2 linked regions of the Homo sapiens genome follow. The protein of the gene in region 2 interacts with the protein of the main gene of each other region in a biochemical or structural test. Each region holds a gene or a part of one and is shown on either strand. Other genes may lie near its edges. The genes, in order: BMP7 and ACVR1.

Evidence for each region.
Region 1: the proteins of ACVR1 (region 2) and BMP7 form a complex in vitro, tested with the Homo sapiens proteins (2 studies listed by BioGRID).

Annotation. Positions count from the first base shown.
Region 1 is NC_000020.11:57,179,448-57,186,737, forward strand, and holds part of BMP7 (bone morphogenetic protein 7 preproprotein), read right to left. Parts: intron 4,473-7,290; coding exon 4,275-4,472; intron 1-4,274. UniProt on the Homo sapiens protein: Growth factor of the TGF-beta superfamily that plays important role in various biological processes, including embryogenesis, hematopoiesis, neurogenesis and skeletal morphogenesis.
Region 2 is NC_000002.12:157,735,883-157,740,557, forward strand, and holds the end of ACVR1 (activin receptor type-1 precursor), read right to left. Parts: intron 2,689-4,675; coding exon 2,558-2,688; intron 1,784-2,557; coding exon 1,649-1,783; 3' UTR 564-1,648; downstream 1-563. UniProt on the Homo sapiens protein: Bone morphogenetic protein (BMP) type I receptor that is involved in a wide variety of biological processes, including bone, heart, cartilage, nervous, and reproductive system development and regulation.

The sequences.
Region 1 (7,290 bases), on a different chromosome or scaffold from region 2:
AAACGTGGGTGGGGAGAAGGAAGTGCAGGGACCCAGTTTCTCAACCCCAAACCGCACCATCTGAAGAGCACGTGAAGCCCCGGGGGAGGGGGCTGGCGGGCAGGAAAGCGAGCTCCGCGTGGGGTAGCGTGCCGGAGCATGTGCCCCCGCCCCAGCACACACAGGGCTGCCGAGAGATTCAACTTGTGTGGCTCCACGGCAGGGCTCCAGCCCAAAACCGGGGGGACGAGCGATTCAAAGGGGCAGGCACACAGGCGTACACACTCACACTCAAGGACTCTGGCCTAAGCCTAGGGTGGGGCCCAGGCCTCGGTATTTTTATTTTATTTTTTTCTTAACTTCCAGGCAGGTTTTAGAAGAGCTGCAAACAGGGCCACGAGCCATCCGCGGGAAGGAGGCAGGTTCCCAGCAATGAATTTCTGCCACGGGAAACAGTGAGAGCCCCGTCCTGGGGGCTGTGTAAATGGAGACTTGGTGGGGCTTTGATGAGGAGGCGGTGGGGAAAATCAGAGTGAATTCTAAGCCCGCGATGCCTAGTTCCTCTCCCCCTCATTACCCAGGTGCACCCGATGGAGCTCCAAGACACGGAAGTCTCTGCCGGGATGCAGTTTGCCTACACTTCCTGCCTGGATGATCTGCCACATCCTCTAAGGAGTCTCCGGCCTCTGAGCACCCCCTCGGCACCCACCCTGTTCCTCACCTTTCTTAGAGCAGCCAGAATGATCTTATCACCTGCACCCCACACCACAGCTTGAATCTCTGCAAAGACTTCTGAACATGCTTGGCATGAAGTTCAAACTCAAGACGTGACTCCCAAGAGAATGCCTGACCCGCCCACCCTCACTCCCCTCCCCTGCTTCAGCCCCCACAGCCTCCTCCCCACTCCCCAAAGGCGCCAGGAAACCCCACAGCACAGGCCTCTGCCCCTGCAGGTCCCACAGCCCAGAGCATCCTCTCCGGACCAGCCTGGCCTCGTGGGCACCCACTGGACCCAGAGCTCTCAGCTCGCTCGCCACGAAATGTTGTCTGCAGCCCTCGGGATGGGCTGCGTTCCCTAGGCACCACCCTGACTCTGGGTCTGTTACTATGTATGGATGTGAATGGCAACCCCCTCCTTCCTGTCCTAAATTAACACCCCCAAGGGCAGCCTTTGTGTGGGTGTTCGACATTGAATCCTAGCCTTCAAGAGTCCAGCATAAAAGAGGCTTCGAATACAAATGAAGGAATTTGGTTGGTTTTTGACTTGGGAGATCAAAGACCCCTTTGAGAAACCTGGAAAAATGGATCCACTGTCAGAAAAGAAAATATACGGAATCCCTACACACTCTGGGCCACACAGACCCACTGAGGTCCATCCGGGGGCCCCAGGACACCCGCCAGGGGTCAGGAAGCCTTGTCTTAAAAAGGCCACCAACCCCACTGACCTGCCTTCTCCCTTGAAAAGTAAAATGAACATAAATTTCAAGCTAGGCTAGGTAAGGAGGAAGAAGCTATTGGCACTAGAGGGTTAATTTGGGGGTGGGGCTGCTGCTATCCCCTCGCCAGGACCTTTCTCAATAGCCCCTTGCTCCCCTTGGGTGCTTCCTGGGACCAACCGCAGGCCCCGGAGGTGATAAGCAGCTAATAGCTTCCCACATGGTGGCAGGGCAGGTTTGCACCTCAGACCTTTTTCTGCCTTGTGATCAACCTGGAGCCAAGAAGGCTGCAACTCCTGAGCCGGCCCCCAGATGGTTGTGTCCCAGCTCCTTAGCAGGATGAGGGAAGCACTCTGAGGAGGCTGGGGGCAGTAGCTCATGCCTGTAATCTCAGTACTTTGGGAGGCCAAAGTGGAAGGATAGCTTGAGCCCAAGAGCTCGACACCAGCCTAGGCAATATAGGGAGGCCCTGTCTCTACAAAAAATAGCCAGGTGTGGTGGCATCCATCTATAGTCCCAGCTACCTGGGAGGCTCAGGCAGGAGGATTGCTTGAGCCCAGGAGGTCAAGGCTACAGTAAGCCATGCTCACACCACTGCACGCCAGCCTGGGCAATGGCGTGAGACCCTGTCTCTAAAAAAAAAAAAAAAGAAAAGAAAAAAGAAAAAGAAAATCACTTTGCCAACAAAGATGTATTCTTTCCTATCGCTGCTTTAACAAATTAACCAAGCAAATTATCAAAACAATACAAGCGGATTATAGCTCTGTGGCTCTGAAGTCCAACACCAGTCTTAGCAGGTAAATGCAACTGGGGGCTCTAGGGGAGGATCCCTTCCTTGCCTTGTGCAGCTTCTCCAGGCCACCCACATCCCAGGGCTGGTGGCCCCACTCATCTCCACCCCTCTGTGCTCTGTGCTTACATGGCTCCAACCACAGCTCAAAAAGGCTCTCTCCTATAAGGACCGATGGGACCACCCTGCTACACAGAGCCCGCGTATTGGAAGGCCAGCTGATTAGCACCTGTGATTCCAAGGGCAGTCGTAACTCCCCTTTGCCCTGGAGGGTGACACATTCACGGGTTCCAGAGATTAAGACACTGGCATCTTGGAGAGGCTATTGCCCTGCTCATTGCAAATGGCTTCCTGAAGAGCCAGAGAAACGGCACCCCCGGGCAGCAGCTCCCCTGGCCGGCGGGATGGGATTGGGGATGGGGAGCAAACTGGGCTCCTTGGATCTGGGAGGTGTCACCCCTCCAGTCCACTGGAAAATGGTTTGTTGTGAGGTTCATTATTCGAAGCTTTGGTTTTAGTCTGGGAGGAGTCCCGATGCATCTTCTGGCGGACTTGACACTGCATGTGCAGGGGGCATGAGCCAGGCAAGGGGTGTGGGAGGGCTGTCCACAGATGCCCACAGTGCCAGCAGGTCTGCTCCAGGCCAGCCCACCTCCAAAGCTCAAAACCAGAATGCACCTTCTGGGGATCCCAGCACCCCCAGGCCACCAGAGGCTGTCAATGTCGGTTTCCCAATCAGCCTATGGGGAAAGGGATTGCACCCCAGCCACAGCCCCAGTGCCCGGGACAAAGCCAGGCTCCTGTGGGGGCTCCACGAATGCCTGGTGAATTGTCAGAAAGCACCCAATGGGATTGCTGGGGACACCGAAGCTCATCCAGGCCAGGTAGATGGCCCCGGCAATGCCCAACAGGGAAGAGGGCCTGGGGCAAGGGACAACCCAGACCCCAGGGACCCAATCCCAGGGCTGCCAGTTACCTACACTGTGCCCTTAGACAAACGACTTACCCTCTTTGAGCCTCAGTTTTCCCCTCTGTGAAGTGGGAGGCCATCTACCTCAGAGCCTCAAGAACCACACAACATGATGGGCTAAAAGCTGTCTGCTTTAGAGGACCTGCAGAGCACGACCTCCTGGAAGTCTCCTTCGCACAATGCGTTAACTTTACTTATATTTACTGTTAATGTTTGATTTGCTTGCAATAAAAATATTATCTTTAATTTTTTTAAAACCTATCGTAAATAAACATTTCAAACAAACTGAAAAGTACCGCACATCATATATTCTTAAAACACCTACCACCTGGCCGGGTGCAGTGGCTCACGCCTGTAATCCCAGCACTTTGGGAGGCCAAGGCAGGTGGATCACTTGAGGTCAGGAGTTTGAGACCGGCCTGACCGACATGGTGAAACCCCGTCTCTACTAAAAATACAAAAATTAGCTGGACACAGTGGTGCACACCTGTAGTCCCAGCTACTCGGGAGGCTGAGGCTGAAGAATCACTTGAATCTGAGAGGCAGAAGTTGCAGTAAGCCGAGATCGCACCACTGCACTGCAGCCTGGGTGACAGAGTGAGACTTCATCTCAAAAAAAAAAAAATGTGTGTGTGTGTATATATATATAATATTTATCAAGTATTAAAGTTTGCCATGAATTTAAAATATTTTTCATTTATGAAATAAAGATACAGCAAACTCTTCTACCTCCCCATTTCTTCCTCCCCCTCCTTCCATGGGGTAAGCCCCCCCAGGGGTCTTCCCATCCACGTTTCAGGGTCTTTCCTTCATCTCTGTGTAGCTGCAAGTGCCGCCATTGTTCTGTTTATTTAAATATCTACATGCTTGGTGTTGTGTTATACGAATGTTTTGCTACTTGCATTTCTAAGCTAGTTTATTTTTACAGAATTAAGATGTCCTGTGTAGGGGTGGATTTGGGGGTTTTCTTCCTGCTATATTTGTTCCAGAGCCATCTGGTGAGCACCTGAATGGATTTTGAGTCAGTCTCCTGCCGGGTCCCGCCGGGGCCCTGCTGGGTTCCTGTGGTGGGTCTGTGATCCCTCCCACCTAAGCATACCTGCCACGTTGGCCATCCGCAGGGCTTCCTGGTTCTTGGGCGTCTTGGAGCGGTTCTGGCTGCGCTGTTTGCTCCCCGTGGACCGGATGCTGCGGAAGTGGACCTCCGTGGCCTTGAAGAAAGCCACCATGAAGGGCTGCTTGTTCTGGGGCCCGTGCCGCCCAATCAGGCCCGCCAACTTGGGGTTGATGCTCTGCCCTGGACAGGAAGCAGCCAAGTGCACAGAAGAGTAGTTACAGGAGGGCCACGAGCGGGACAGGGCTGCAGAGATGCTATGCCTCCCGGTTCATTCATGAACTCCTTATTCCTCCATCCAGTAAGTATTTATTGAGTACTCACTCTAGGCCAGGTACTGTTTAAGGAACTTGGAACACAACTGTGAAAGCAGCCAAGAAAACATCCTGTTCTCTGGGTTTCCATGCAAGTGGGGAAGGCAGGCAGGAAATATAAGGGGTGGGGAACCAGGCTGAGGGGTGCGGAAGGTGGCAAGCTAGCGAACCCCATAAGTGCCACTCACATTCCATTGGCCAAAGCAGGTCGTGGTATCTGCCTAATTTCAGGGAGTTGGGGGGCAATCTTGCTCCGTGCCAGGGAAGGTGGGAACAATTGCAAACAACCCTAATGACTATAGGGGCCATCTGAGCAGAGATCTGGGTAACAGTGAGTGAGGGGGCCCAATGGATGTTTGGGAAGAGTGCATTCCAGGCAGAGGGAACTGCAGAGGTGAATGCCCGGAGGCAGGAGCAAGGAGGGTGTGTTCAAGGGGCAGGGGCAAGTAGCAGGGACAACTGGGAGGGGCAGTAGGGGCACGAGTCAGGTCGGGTCCTATGGGCAACACGAGCACCTGCCTCAGCCCAGTGTCCTCTGTTGCTGATGTCCTCTAAAATTCACACCCACACAGAGCCTCAGGATGTGACCTCATTTGGAAGCAGGGTCTTTGCAGATGTGCTGTCGTCAGTTAAAATAAGCTCATCCTGGATTAGGATGAGCCTTAATCCAGTGACTAGTGTCCCCATAAGAAGGCCACATAAAGACACAGATGCAGACAGCCTGGGGAAGACAGAGGCCATGAAATGCCAAAGATTGCCAGGAGCCTCTGAAGCCAGAAGAGGCAAGGAGGGATTCCTCCCTAGAGCCTTTGTAAGAGGACAACCCTGTGGCACCTTGACTTTAGACTTCTCGCCTCCAGACTGTGAGACAATAAAGCCCTATTGTTTCAAGCCACCCAGTGAGTGGGACTTCGCATCCAGGGCCCTGGTCAGGACACCAAGGCGCTCTACAAGAAGCAAGAACCACTGGGGTGGGACTTTCAGTGGTGTTTATAAGGCCACTCAGGCTGCCCCTGGAGAGCCGATGGCAGGGGTCAACCTGGAAGCAGGGAGACCAGGTGGAGGCAACAGAATGGTCCACGTGGGAGGTGACGTGAGACTGGACCCAGGGCAGTGGGGAGGGAGGCTGGTGAGAAAAGGCCAGATCCTCAAGAGTTCATTTTTAAAATCTTTAGAATTTATTTTGGTTTTAACTTTTTGTTGTGAAATGATTATAGATTCACAGGAAGTTGAAAGACGATGTACAGGGAGGTCCCAAGTGCCCTTCATCCAGTTTCCCCCAAAGGTGATGTCTCGAATAACAAGAACACAGCCTCCAAACCAGGAAGGTGGCAGATTTAGGACTGAATTTGGGAAGGGATTATAAAAGGTGTGAGAAAAAGGGGAGTCTCATGAGACTGGCATGCTCTTGGCCCAAGCCCCTGGAAGAAGGGAGGGACTGTTTACCAAGGTAGGGAAACTGAGGCAATGGAGCATAAGCTGGGAAATAGAGGGTGGAAGACAAAATGCAGTTTCGTTTAGCAGATATTGTATGAAATCCCTACTTGACACCAAAAGGAAGGTGTCAGGTGGGCAGCAGAGGTCTGGCCTAGGCTTGATCAATTGATCAGTTGGAAGAGATGAGCTCTGGGCTAGTGAGGGAGGGAGTAGGGCCCAGGCAGGTTCAAAGCCCTGCCTCTGTCACTTAATGCACAGCTGGGGCTCAGGACACAGCTTTGCACACCCTAAGTGCTCAATAAATGCTAGCTCAGGGCAGAGCTTTGCATACCCTAAGTACTCAATAAATGCTAGCTCAGGGCAGAGCTTTGCATACCCTAAGTACTCAATAAATGCTAGCTCAGGGCAGAGCTTTGCATACCCTAAGTGCTCAATAAATGCTAGCTCAGGGCAGAGCTTTGCATACCCTAAGTGCTCAATAAATGCTAGCTCAGGGCAGAGCTTTGCATACCCTAAGTACTCAATAAATGCTAGCTCAGGACAGAGCTTTGCATACCCTAAGTGCTCAATAAATGCTAGCTCAGGGCAGTGGTCCAGACAGTAATGTAAGCTTGGGTGTCCCCAGTGTAGAGATGGCATTTAAAGCCAGAAGACTGGATGAGCTCGCCTGGGGAAAGTGTGTACAGCCTGACAAGCAATGTGAAGGTGGCCTCTGTGTTCCACTGAGAGGTCAGGGGAATGCAACGGAGACTGTGCAGGAGTACCCGGTAAGGAAGGATCTGGAAGACGCTTGGGCAGGAAGAATGGGGACACCAACAGGGTATGGGGTCCCGGAAAACAGGGGAGGAAAATAGAGGGAGCAAACTCCGTGTCCGTTGCTCTGCAGATGGACCTAAGAACACACTATCTATCCACTGGCTTTGACAATGATGAGGTCATTGGCAAATATATATGTAATACCATGTCTGGGGGTGATGAGTATTTCAAAGCCAAAAATAAAGCATCCAGTGGAAACAAAGCCTGTTTTACTCATGACAGCACAAGCTCAGAGAGGCTGAATAACCCGCCCAGGGATACCCGGCTTGGAAGCAACAAAGTAGAATCTGAACCCAGGTGAGGATGACGGGGAGTTGGGAGGCTGAGCCTCTGCAGATACGGTGCCCCCAAGTTAGATGGGAGGGGTCAGAGGCCAGCAAAAGCGATGGGCCTGTTCACATCTGGAATTAACTTCACCTGGAGTCCCCCAGACG
Region 2 (4,675 bases):
AAAATGTCATTCTAATATATACCCTCCAAGTAAATACATCCTAATGAAGTTATTAACTTACCTCTGGAAGACATTCCGGCATGTTCACACCTCTTCTCTTATTGGGCTACTGTTAACTCTACCTTTTAATCTTGTGTACAAGCAGTGAAAAAACCGAGAACGGACTCTCCCAAGCAGCAAGGGCGGATGCATAAGACCACTTTACACTCACGTGGAACCTTTCACTCAACAAAATGCTTTAACATCCTCCTTCCCGTTTACACTCACAACACCCCCCTGTGAGAAAGGCAGGTCAGAGAGATTTGTTACCCTCACCTTACAGCTGGAGAAACTGACTGAAAAAAAAACACAAAAAAACAAAAAAATCACAGCCAAAGGAAGAAACAAATTTTCTTATACCAAATTCAAGCTGTAAGACATCCTTATGATGTCTTACATAAGTTCATGAGTAGATTTAAAAAGCAAATTCAATTTACAAATTAGTTTTGTGCTTCTATTGCTCCCATAAGAAAATGCATAATGTTACACAGATCTTTTTTATATTTTGAAAAACAATTTCACTGTTTGACTTGAAAACAGTTTATTTAATTTATACAAATAACTACTAAATACAAAAAGTAGATTAAAACAAAATAGTTATTTTTTTCTGGCAGAGTTTAAATGCACGTAATGGATAATTCTGAAGAAAATGCATTTTCCCCGTAGCGTTCAGGACTAAAATTCTACTGAAATCTTTGCTTCTAAATCAGTAATATATTCGGTGGTGTCACGTGGGTAATGGCTAAATACGTTCTGCATATGAACTGAAAAAAAGTTACAGTCTACACACATACAAATGTGAAGCACTTAAAATGTGATTTTAACTGATAATAAAAGAAAATGTCCATTTTAGAGTATAGTGTTAAAAACATTTCTGTAATAAAATCATAAGACCACATAAAAATAAGCTTTAACATATGCACAAAGCAGTTTTGTAAAAACTACTAAGTGCACAAGTAATAAATAATTTGCAAAGTTGTGTATAAACAATTCCTAATGTTCGGCATCATTGTAAACATCAGCACATGTGTAAAATGCAGCAAAGTCTGACATTACATTTTGTTTTGCCAAATTGAATTCCTATTATCCAAAGACAGACCAGTGGAGTACGCAGCCAACATTTTGGCAAGTTGGGTCTTTAAAATTAAGAGTAACAGTGCAAGTAAGGAATGCAAAGAATTCCTAGTGCAATAAAGAAGAGAAGCACAGGCAATATTGCTGATTAAAAATTCACCACCTCCTTGAGTTTCCCGTGGGGAGTGTCTAGGAGACTTGTGAAAGCTATGCAAAGCCACTGACTTAATGCCCAGATCTCTTTTAGGATTTCTCTGTGTTCCTCCAGTCCCTACCTTTGCAACAGTGTCTGTCCAACATTAGTCTCTGCAGTGTGAACAGTTCGTGAAATGCCCAGTTCACAGTCATCGAGCGAGGTTAGGGTGGTTTTGATGTCTCCCCAACACATGGCTGGGTACGACGTCTGCCTTGTCAAAGCAGCCATTTGGGGAGGGAGACAGATGGATTCCATTCTGACAACCAGTCAGGCCAGCATTAGGTCCCAGCTGGACAATGACAACAACGTCAAATCTTCCTTCTTGACACTATGAAAATGTCAACAGTCAGTTTTCAATTTGTCGAGGGAATTATCAATTTTGGTCAAAGTCTTTTTGATACGCAGTGCTGTGAGTCTTGCGGATGGATTTTGATACCAGCATTCTTTCATTAGCTTGGCCAGAGAGGTTAATGTCTGAGGAGAGAAAGAACAAACACCACAATGACAAACTGGCTTTTTAATGGCCCTGGAAGCTGGGCTGATATCATGTCTACTATTCTGAAGAACTCGCAGGTCTTGTGAAATTAGAGTTATGTTACTGTCATCTTCTTCAAGCAAATATTCAACCTTTAACCACTGATAAAGAGGCCATTCTTAGAATTTCATGAACTCTGTCCTTTGGACTCTTAATGCTACCAATTTATTAGGTAAACGACATAGGCCAGATTGGACCCCTTAATGATTTTATGGGTGCCAAAAGCAGCAATACTAACCTAGAGATAATCCTGAAATTTCCAAATAGGGTCATTTCTCATTGTTTTATACCTGCTACTACTTATGAGTAGCAATACAGGATCTTCAGCATCCAGCAGCTTGTGTTTGGGATTTCAGATATACAGAGATGGAAAGGAGGTTAAAAGCTTCACTTAAAGTCTCTTGGTTTATACATGCAGTCTTAGGGCTAATAGCAGTAGTCATGAGTCTCCCGATTCCTGAAGCTGCATATTCACAGAAATTCTTACAAATATTGTCATTCACTAGCAACCCCTATGAGATATGGCTTCTTCAAGAATGGAGTATTTTTCTGAACTTACTCTTCTAGATCTAAACCCTTCTATATAAAATAGGAAGAGAAAACAACAGATCCACGGGACAGATCACTCAGATGCAATACCAGTTGAAACTCAAAGGGAAACAAATAGCAAACAATGGAAAAGAGCTCTAAAACTGAGAAACTGGCATTCTTACCGGGTCTGAGAACCATCTGTTGGGTATGTTTGGCCTTTGTTGATCCACACAGACTACCTTCCTCATATCTTCAAAACTTGGGTCATTGGGAACCACATCGTAGAACGGTGGCTTGTAATCCTCCACTATACCTGCACACAAGGACAAGAATTGTGTTCGGTTAGCAAGAGAGTACAGGTTGCCCCAAGGTTTCATTGATGGGTGTCACAGGTTATAATGTGACAGAAGAAAATACTAATCACCTTCCTCATACCTCAGGGCAGTCCTGGAAGCTAGAGGTAGGTCCTAAAACAGGTGGGAGAAAAAGGCAATAAATACACACCCTGCATGGTATTGGAAGAAGGATAATTGTTAGAAGGAAATACGTGAAAACTTCTCATGTAATCATAACTATTAGCAAAATTCTCCAACAGTGTATATTAACAGCTCTGTAACGCCCAACAGGGCACTGGAGACATAGAACAAAAATTCCTTTGGTGATAAAAACCACCCAAGCTACCTATGGAAAGTACCTGAATCTAGTGGTTTCAAACCATAAATAGAAATAAAAAGTTGTCCACAAACTAGAGCTAGGGAGTAATAAACCAAGACCATCATCAAAATACCCCTTTCTTTGTTAGAAAAGTATTTTGTTAAGAAAAACATTGCTATAAATTAATCTCTTCCATTAGGAGGGATGCAAATAATATCATAGGAAATACTCATTTCCTCATTCATTCATTCTACATGTACTGAGTACCCTCTAACTACAGGCACAGCTGTCTGACTGATGGCTCTATTATTTACTATCATATTGAAGGCACAAAATAAAATGTAAAGAGGATAGCCATGTGGGAAGGCAGAGGAAAAGAAGGATAAATAATGAACTCTTCCTCTGCCCAAAAGCAAATATGAACAGTAGCTAATACCAGCTTCTGCCCCTGCATGATTTCCAATGGCCTGGAAACTTTTTCTTTTCCAGCAGAATTATATCAACTCCTTAAACAGAAAAATTTTTAACTTCATCATTTGGAATTAGAAAATGGATTCTTCCCCTTCATAGAAATAAAACCAAGACATCTATTATTTCCTTTCCCTCAACAAAGGGTTCAAACAATGAGGTAATAACTTGGTTTACTGCTCTCTTTTCTTCCTCCAGGCGACTTTCTTCTATTCCTAAATACCTAAGAAGTTGTTGGAGGCGACAGAAGGAGTGTGAGGAAAGTTGTAATTCGGTTGTTCTAGTTCCTACAAGCCACCTGAAAAGCTTCAATTCCCTTTTCATTTATCACAGAAATTACTCAACAGTGGGAATCCATCCTTACAAATTCCATACAAATACAAACCATTTATGCAAAAGATTAGATATAAGGAGCATCTTTTCAAGAAATGCTACATATCTTTTTAAAACTTCACAAATTTGGCTAAATAAAGGTTTATATTTGAGATGGAAACAAGTCTAAATTATATTTTTTAAAAATCTAGGCTGGGTGTGGTCGTTCACGCCTGTAATCTCAGCACTTTGGGAGGTCGTGGTGGGTGGACCACTTGAGGTCAGTGTTCGAGACAAGCCTGGGCAACATGGCAAGACCCTGTCTCTACTAAAAATACAAAAATTAGCCGGGTGTGTTGGCGCGTGCCTGTAGTTCCAGCTAACTCAGGAGGCTGAGGCACAAGATTTGCTTGAACCCGGGAGGTGGATGTTGCAATGAGCCAAGATCAGACCACTGCACTCCAGCCTGGGTGACAGAGTGAGATTCTGTCTCAAAAAAAAAAAAAAACTAGTTAATTCCAAATAACTTACCCACATTGTGTAACTGCATTTGAAATGCATATCAGTCAGTGGATTAAAACCTTTCCTGGCAAATCATAAACATCATATTGGGTATAAACTGCTACTCTCAGAAATCTTGGAACACCTCATCTTAGAGGCCCTTCTTCTCCTGTAAGGATCCCAGGAAACATTCAAACAAAAATCTTTTAATTATTTTCAGTACTAACAGACACCATCTAAAATACAGCTGAACATGGACCTAGAGAGATATTTTATGCGTTTTCTAGGGTCACAAGAATTTACAGAAAACAGTAAGACACGTGCCCTTCACCATCTCTCAATTTTTCTGAAAGAGAATATATTTA